2 separate regions of the Homo sapiens genome follow, and region 2 is linked to region 1. Evidence: fine-mapped expression QTL. A gene starts in region 1. The other region holds a variant in brackets. All regions are shown on one strand. Distances are from middle to middle.

What was found. PIP is the estimated chance that this variant, and not a neighbour inherited with it, causes the effect.
Region 2: its variant is the best candidate, but not a certain one, in a credible set for the expression of NUP35 in iPS cells (HipSci, PIP 0.55).

The regions. Positions count from the first base shown.
Region 1 is chr2:183,122,275-183,126,510 of GRCh38, forward strand. NUP35 (nucleoporin 35) reads left to right here and starts at 2,169. Exons shown (of 9, transcript NM_138285.5): 1 at 2,169-2,223. The coding sequence starts at 2,184. It overlaps LOC124907917 (a long non-coding RNA gene), which reads right to left and starts at 2,683. Exons shown (of 2, transcript XR_007087331.1): 1 at 2,519-2,683; 2 at 1,643-2,433. RefSeq lists an enhancer at 2,219-2,987.
Region 2 is chr2:183,084,982-183,089,260 of GRCh38, forward strand. DUSP19 (dual specificity phosphatase 19) reads left to right here. Exons shown (of 4, transcript NM_080876.4): 3 at 2,059-2,211. Among named protein-coding and RNA genes, the nearest start is that of DUSP19, 8.4 kb to the left of the region's middle. The variant G/GAA (reference allele first, on the strand shown) is at 1,670.

The DNA of each region.
Region 1 (4,236 bases):
ACCATGTTGGCCAGGCTGGTCTGGAACTCCTGACCTCGTGATCCGCCCGCCTTGGCCTCCCAAAGTGCTGGGATTACAGGCATGAGCCACCATGCCCGGCTGGTGCAAATCTTTTTCAACATCTTCTTTTATTTAAAGAAGTATCACTCTTTTCTCTTTCTCTGCATCTGTTCCTAAATAAACCCGTTATTAAATAAAAATGGTGCCGTATATGCATGCATGTTTTCAAATTACTTTTTTTCATTATATCTATCACAGAGGTCTTTCTAGGTTAATATTTACACTCATATCAAATCCATCTAATTCATTTTAGTTGTTGTATAGTGTTCTTTTGTTTGGCTAGATCATAATTTGTATAGAAATTTCTTTTTTATTTTGTAGAGAAGTGGGGTCTCACTATCTCAAACTCCTGGACTCAAGTGATCAACCCCTCAGCCTCCCAAGGTGCTGGGATTGCAGGTGTGAGCCACCACATCTAGCCTCAATGTGTGTAGAAATTTATACATTGATATACCTTTCTTGGTAGCTTAATTCTAAAAAGTGGATTGCCCTGTGTTGTGGGCTGACTACTCCCCAAAGATATCCATACACTAAGCTTTAGAATCTGTGAATGTTACCTTATATGGCAAAAGGTATTTTGAAGATGTGATTATTAACTTAATCACCTCTACTGAATATTGAAATAGTAAGATTATCCTGGATTACCTGGGTGGGTCCTAAATGTCATCACAAGGCTATGTGATGGCAGAAGCTGAACAAAGCAGTGTCAGACAGACCAAAGATGCTACATCGTTGGCTTTGAAAAAGCAGGAAGGTGGCACAAGCTAAGAAATATAAGTGGCTTCTAGAAGCTTGAAAAAGCAAGGTAATAGATTCTCCCCTGGAGCCTCCAGAAGAAAATAGTCCTTCTGGTACTTTGATTTTAGCCCTACAATACTCATTTTGGATTTTTGGCCTCCAGAACTGTAAGAGATACATTTGTGCTGGTTTAGTTAACCGAGCTTGTGGTACTCCAATGTGACTTTATCTGAACTTTATTACATCTGCAAAGACCCGATTTCCAAATAAGGTCATATTCATAAGTATGAGGGTTAGGACTTGAACATAAATTTTTGAGGGACACAATTCAATTCACACACCCATTTTCAAAAAGTCAATTCGATCTGTGAGTGGTTTTAAAATTTGATTTCTGTGAACCTACCATTTAATTCTGGAATTGTTACTGCCTCATTCCAAAGACAAAATTCTTCCTCCATTTGAGATTTTAGGAAGTCCTAGAAGAAATAGCTGAGCATGGGTGGATATTTTGGAAATAATCCTCATGGTATGGAGCAGAGAACGTCCCCAGTTATACATATGTAGCACATTATTTTATAAAGTTAGTATTTGAGCAAAACTAAACAATATATTTTTACACACACATATGCAGAATATGTGTATGTGATTTACGTATGACTATGCCCTAAAGAAAAGCAGCAAAGTGAGGGGACGTGGACGGCAGGGATGGCACATGCAGAAGCACGCAAGATTCCGCGGTGTGGAGGGTTCGTGGGTGCGTATAATTATCTTCCATTATTTACATGTGTACTTTATGCGTTCGTTAGCTATATTTTTGTATGTTTTAATATGCAACAAAACGGCGTATGAGTTACGCTTTAATGTAAAATTGTCTACATAACACAAAATTTAAAAGAAATGGCATACGGATAGTAGAAAACATGCTTTGAGGAAAAAGCGTCATGTACTAAGTCCAGAAATCGACATTGCAAAGAGGCACCAACTGTTTTCATCAAGCTGACTTTTCCAGGTGCTACTCAGAAAAGCTGACCGATGATAGAGCACTGGGTCAACTCACGCTAATTATGAAACCGTGAGTAAAATAATCTGTGCTTCTATGTAACTTAAGTACCCACAAATCAGGAAGCATTCCCGGATGAAAAGCATTCACAGAACCATACGCTGGTTCGCCACCTTCCCGGTGCAAAAACCCTTTCCTCGGAAATTCTCAGCGCAAAGACTTTGCCCTATTCCAAAATGGCTCCGGCGCCTACAACTTAAGCATAGCGCAGGTCCGGAAGTTACGCAACCCCATAAGGTAGCACGCCGTTACCCGTGGGGAGCGTTTCCGCCATTTTTGAAAATTAATTGGGAAGGTACTGGTTTTAAGTGTAGTTGCCGACGCAATGGCAGCCTTTGCAGTGGAACCTCAGGGGCCCGCGTTAGGTGAGTGAAATATTGCTTTTCCTTGCTGGCACTGCCATCCATGCTCTGGGCCTGGAGGCGGGCAAGACTGAAAGGCAGTCGTCAGGCTCTCGTCTGCTGGTTTCAGTCGCGGAGAGGGAATCCTTGGGTGCCCCCAAGTTCATAGTCGGTCCCCTACTCGACGCGTCGCCTCCATACTGCTACAAAGGTGGCGCCGGGAAGCTGAGGGCCCTGGGAGGGTGAAGAAAAGGCCGTCTGGCGGTGACTGAGCTGTGTTTGTGCCCCCACACGCCAGCCACGTTAGACTGGCCCATACCTTAACCTCCTTCTGATACCCGAGACGCGATGCTGGTTGCTGGATTCCCAGCTGGTTGCTGGTCCCCAGAAGCATCCCTGGGAGGAACTGACCGCGGTACACGTGGGTGGGCGGTGCCCTGAAGTGTGTGGGTGCAGTCCACTGCTTCTTGATCACCGGTGCTTCCAGTTCCTGTTTTGACTCCTCTCTCCCGGGCTTTGCCAAAGGAATCTTGTTATTAATGGAAGCTTGAATCGTGCAACATTTAATCAACCGTGTGGTTGGTAATCATTGAGATATTGACCTTAACAGCAAGCTAGGAGTTCGCACGATATTTCCCGCCTTTATTTGGGGAAAGTGACTCTTAAGTATTGTAGGAGGTATTTTTCTCTAGTAAGTCACGATCTGAATTTTTTTAAAGATTCATTCCCATTATTCATTGCGGAGCCTCGTTGAAATATGTCGTCTTTGAAAAAAATCTACCACTTTAACAGCACGCGGATTTCTTTTTTTCCTGCTGAGTTTTGCGACTTGTGAGAATCGTCGAAAATTTTAGAACGGAAAATAAACCGTCTTACTGTCATAGAGACTTACCTGAAAAGTTAGGTTATAACTTTCTGAGCTTGGAAAAGAGAGCAAATGTAATATATATGGTGTGGAAAGAGTCTTTAGATTTGAAGGGTATGTAATGCTTGCCATGTTTGGTGTAAAATAAGTTCTTTTTGAGAATAGAGTAACTTGAACTACTTTAGTCTGTCATAAAAAAACTAAATGCATAATGTCAATAATGCAGATACTCTGCATTAAAATTTATATATAGATGTCGTCTTGGTATTTATTTTTAATGTATTTTAGAGATCAAAAACTCTTCATTTCCAGTTCCAAATTTTTCTATTCAACAAAAACATTTTGGAGTGCATATTTATTGGGGTTACAAATGTGAGTAAACCAATCCCTGTATATTGCCTTGCCAGAAATCTGACATTAGCCAGTATTAATGTTTAAGTCCACATTTTGCAGATATTCCAGGTGCCCACTGGTGTAGTAAAACTAAGGGTTGACTTCAACAAACTGCTAGCTGAGTACGTATCTTTTGGGAGCACAGAATATGAAATGGAATTGAGGACATGCAGCATCTTTTCCTTAAGTTTGCTTTAAGTGAAATTTAGCCTGAGGGGTGGTTGGTGACAGTCCTGATTAAGAGCCCATTGTGCCCTCCTTCCTGTCTGGTGCTTTCTTTTTTCTTTTCCTTCCTTCTTCCCTCTCTCCCTCCCTCCCTTCCTCTTTTTTGACACAGCCGTGTCACCTGGGCTGGAGTGCAGTCGTGCAGTCTCAGCTCACTGCAACCTCCCCCTCCGGGCTCAAGCAATCCTCCCACCTCAGCCTCCCAGGGGCTGGGACCACAGTGTGCCGCCACTCCCAGCTACTTATTGTATTTTTGGTAGAGACAAGGTTTCGCCATTTTGTCCAGACTGGTCTCGAACTGAGCTCGAGCGATCCACCTGCCTCGGCCTCCCAAAATCCTGGGATTAGAGGCTTGCGCCTTCTACTGTGTCTGTATGTATCCAGATACATCAGAACTTTTCTTAAGCCAATTCTTACTTTATTTTGCTATAATTTTTTTTTCTTTTAGGGAGGGGGAGTGAATGTAGTGAATGTTACCAAAAACTTTGCGTTTAATATGGTATTCTGAATATCTGTTAAGAATATGCTTTTGTTTAGACTTTTGGTTTGATTTT
Region 2 (4,279 bases), 37 kb before region 1:
AACTAAGTAAAGTTATCGTTCCATGAGATTGAAAGCAACGTAGAAGGAACAGGCTTTGAAGGAGAAACAGTGTGCTCAGTTCTGAACATGTTAGGTTTTGGGTGATGTGGATCATCTAGGTGGGTGGATATGTAGGGTCTGAAGTTCAGAATAGAGGTGAATATATAGATTTAGGAATCTTCAGCTTTTAAGTAGTTACTGAAACCATTAGAATAGATGAAGCTGCCTGGGGAAAAGTGTAAAGTAAGAGAGAAGAGGGCCTATGACAGAATCTTATCACAGAACTGATAAATTGAGGAATATCACCCTATATGGAATGATCAAACAAAGAAGAGTCCGCAGTGGGAAAGGAGGATCTAAAAGAGGCCCAAAGAAGGTAAAACAAAAAGATGGTGTCATGGAAACTAAAGAGAATAGTGTTTTAAGGAGGAGAGAGTCAGCAATGTCAGATGCTGTAAAAGTTTAAGTACGATTAGGACTAAATTATATCCATGGGACTTGGTGACAGAGAGGTTGTTAGTGCGTTTGGTGGAAACAGTTTCATTTGAATTGGAGGCCAAAGCCATATTGCAAAAGATTGAGAAGTGAGGAAGTGATGGCAAAGGGAAAAAAAAAAAGAGAGAGAGGAGCCATAGGTGAGGAGGGGGAGGGGAGAGCTTTGAGCATGTTTTAAGGCTGATGGTAGAAGAAGGAATTGAAGATACAGAAAAGCAAGAATTATGACTATAGGGAGATGCCAAGAAAGTAGGAAGCACTGTGACTCCAAGCACAGGTTCTGGAATGAGCCTTATCGAAGATGCACGAGCACATCCTTCATTGTAATCAGAAGGCAGAGGGGAAGTACAGATGTGGACAAGGTTGTTAGGTTTTTTTTTTTTTTTTTTTTTTTTTTTTTTTTTTTTGAGGCAGAGTCTCGCTCATTTGCTCAGGCTGGAGTGCAGTGGCATGATCGTGGCTCACTGCAACCTTTACCTCCTGGGTTCAAGTGATTCTCAGCCTTTGGATTATCTTAATGGACTGTCTGCCTGGCTTTCTTCCACATGGTTGGTGGACTCTAGGAAAAGGGGCTCAAATACATAGATGCAAGAGGAGGAGGTTGCTCAAGTGTACCATCTGAAAGAAAATATTTTACAACCACACCTCCCCTTACTTTTCAGCCAGATTGGTTCATCAGAATCTCTGGGTATGAGACCCTGTGTTATTGATAGTTTTTAAGAGTTCATCAGGTGACTCTAATGTGCAGTCATCCTGGAGAACCATTTTATAAAGTAAAGAATATGAAGGAAAATAGGGAAATAATTCTTGAAAGGGAAGTTGTATACCACTGATACACTTCTCCTATTTAAGTTTTTATATGGATATTCACAGATTAATTCAACAAAGATTTTAAGCATTTTCTGCTAAACTCACTGCTCATTCGCTTATAACACTAAGTTAAACATGGTCCCTACCCTCATGGAGTTTCTAGTGCAGTGAAAGAGAAAAACAATCTCTAAATGGCATGAGCTATAATAGGGCAAGTCCAGGGCTATGAAAATATATAGGCCAGGTGTGGTGGCTTATACCTGTAATGCCAGCACTGTGGGAGGCGGAAGTGGGAGCATCACTTGAGGCCAGGAGTTCGAGACCAGCCTGGGCAAAAAAAGTGAGACCCGCCCCCCTCTTCTCT[G/GAA]AAAAAAAAAAAAAAAAAAAAAATTAGCTGGGTGTGGTGGTACACGCCTGTAGTCCCAGCTACTTGGGAGGCTGAGGCAGGAGGATCACCTGAGCCTAGGAGTTCAAGATTGCAGTGGCCTATGATTGCATCATTGCACTCCAGCCTGGGTGACAGAAAGAGACCCTGTCTCTGCATGATGATAATAATAAGTTAAAAGAGAGAGAGAGAGAGAGAAAACATATAGTAGAAGGAGCACTTCTGGTGTGGGATTGAAGCAGTATTATCATTCAAGTGAGTCGCATTTAAATTTTTTACCTTTCTTGTTATAGATATCAACACCCCAGTCTCTTTTTAGGTAACCTAATTCATGGGATTTAAAACAATCATCTTTTTTCTTTCTCTTTAAGGTGACTCATATTCTTAATGTTGCATATGGAGTTGAAAATGCTTTCCTCAGTGACTTTACATATAAGAGCATTTCTATATTGGATCTGCCTGAAACCAACATCCTGTCTTATTTTCCAGAATGTTTTGAATTTATTGAAGAAGCAAAAAGAAAAGTGAGTTTTGTTTTGATCCATAGTTCTGCAGAAGCAGAAATTTGAAAGTGTGGATCCATTACCCAATCTTTATTATTTTTATAATGAATCTCTAAAAAACAATTATGAAATTTCCCTTCTAACAATATTTCATTATTTCCTACAATTATTTGGTTAATTGCTCTTTTTTCAATGAGATGTTTAGTTTCAACATTAATTCAGACTATAAAACAGAGACTGCTCTAGACTTGTTAGTGTATTTATGATGATTAATATGCATTTGATTTTAATGAATGAGATAGTTATTGTGAAACTATGCATTTTTAGCAGTAAAATTTTAAGGCACTCTAAGGACTAAATGTGTATTGCTTTACTTAGATTGTATGAAAATGCTGATCAGAAACTGTCTGTTGGTTTTCTGAAGTTAGAAGACCAATAGCCAATGTCATATAGTACTTCAGGCTTGTTATTGAAGTCAACATTCTGACAGGCAAAGTTTCTAGGTTGGCTGTTATCAACAATTATTCCTTGAAATGTCATCATTTTTAGTCAGCAAATAATTCTTACAGACTTTATGTAAGATACGTAGATGGGAAAGTAGAAGCATTTACAGAGAGAAATAACTCTTCTGGAACACCTAACAATGACAGGATTACAATCAGGTTTAATTGAACTCTGGCCTACCTTCTCTCCCTTTATCTTTTCTCCTTCCCATTTTCTCTTCCTCTCTCCCTTCTTTCCTTTCATTTAGTAATATTTATTGAATGCCTTAGGTGCCCAGCACTGTTCTACGTGCCTTCCTACTAGACTACCCAGAAAATATAAAACTATTCAATTCTACTGTTCATCAACTTTACTTAATAGCAGATACAGTCATGCACTGCATAATGATGTTTGGACTGCATATATGATGGTGGTTCCATAAGATTATAATAATGTATTTTTACCATACCTTTTCTATGTTTATGTATGTTTAGATACACAAATACATACCATTGTGTTACTGTTGCCTACAAGTCAGTACAGTAACATCTGAACAGGTTTGTAGTCTTGGAGCAATAGGCCATACCATTCTAGGTTTGTGTGAGTGCACTCTGTGATGTTTACACCACGAAGAAACTGCCTAACAACACATTTCTCAGAATGCATCACCATTGTTAAATGATGCACGACTGTATTTGGATGGAAGCAAAGGAAGAGGTTTTTTTTGTTTTTTGTTTTTTGTGTTTTTTTTTTTTGTTTTTTTTTTTTTTGAGATGCAGTCTCACTCTGTCGCCAGGCTGGAGTGCAGTAGTGTGATCTCGGTGCACTGTAACCTCCGGCTCACTGCAACCTCCGCCTCTCGGGTTCAAGTGATTCTCCTGCCTCAGCCTCCCAGGTAGTTGGGACTATAGGAGCACACTGCCACACCCGGGTAATTTTTTGTATTTTAGTAGAGACAGGGTTTCACCGTGTTGCCCAGGCTGGTCTTGAACTCCTGAGCTCAGGCAGACCACCTGCCTCAGCCTCCCAAAGTGCTAGGATTACAGGCATGAGCCACTGCACCTGGCCAAGGGAGAGGTTTTTTAATTCAAAGCCTAATATTGGCCATTCTGTTTTCTTGTTAAAAAATTTACAGGCTCTGGATTGTAACATTCCAGTGTGTGAGTTAATAGTTTTAAAAATAAAAAGGATGTTTCTGTATTGGCTCCTTCTCTAAGGAGATGTAGAATATGCCAGAGATGGCAAAGTATAGATATCATCCATATTCATATTAACATTAGAAGAGATGTAAATGTTGCAAGTAAAAATTAGAGAGGTTAATCATATCTAGAAAGAAAAGCAAGAGATTGAATATTCTAATAAGCTTGGAATTTTAAATAAATTTAAAAAATAAAGTTTGCCTTAATTTGGGCCAGTAAATTAGAGTGGATTTTAGCTTGGGTTTCCTAAAAATAAAGCCTGAGATGAGGATTTAGAGCTTATGCTTAATTTGAGAGGTACAATCTCTAGGCAGTGAGAGTGGCAAGAAAGGAAAGTGATTCAAGGTGGGACGAGAAGCAATACAAAGTGATGCGTTTACCCTGCTGGGCTCATTTCACAGTGAGCT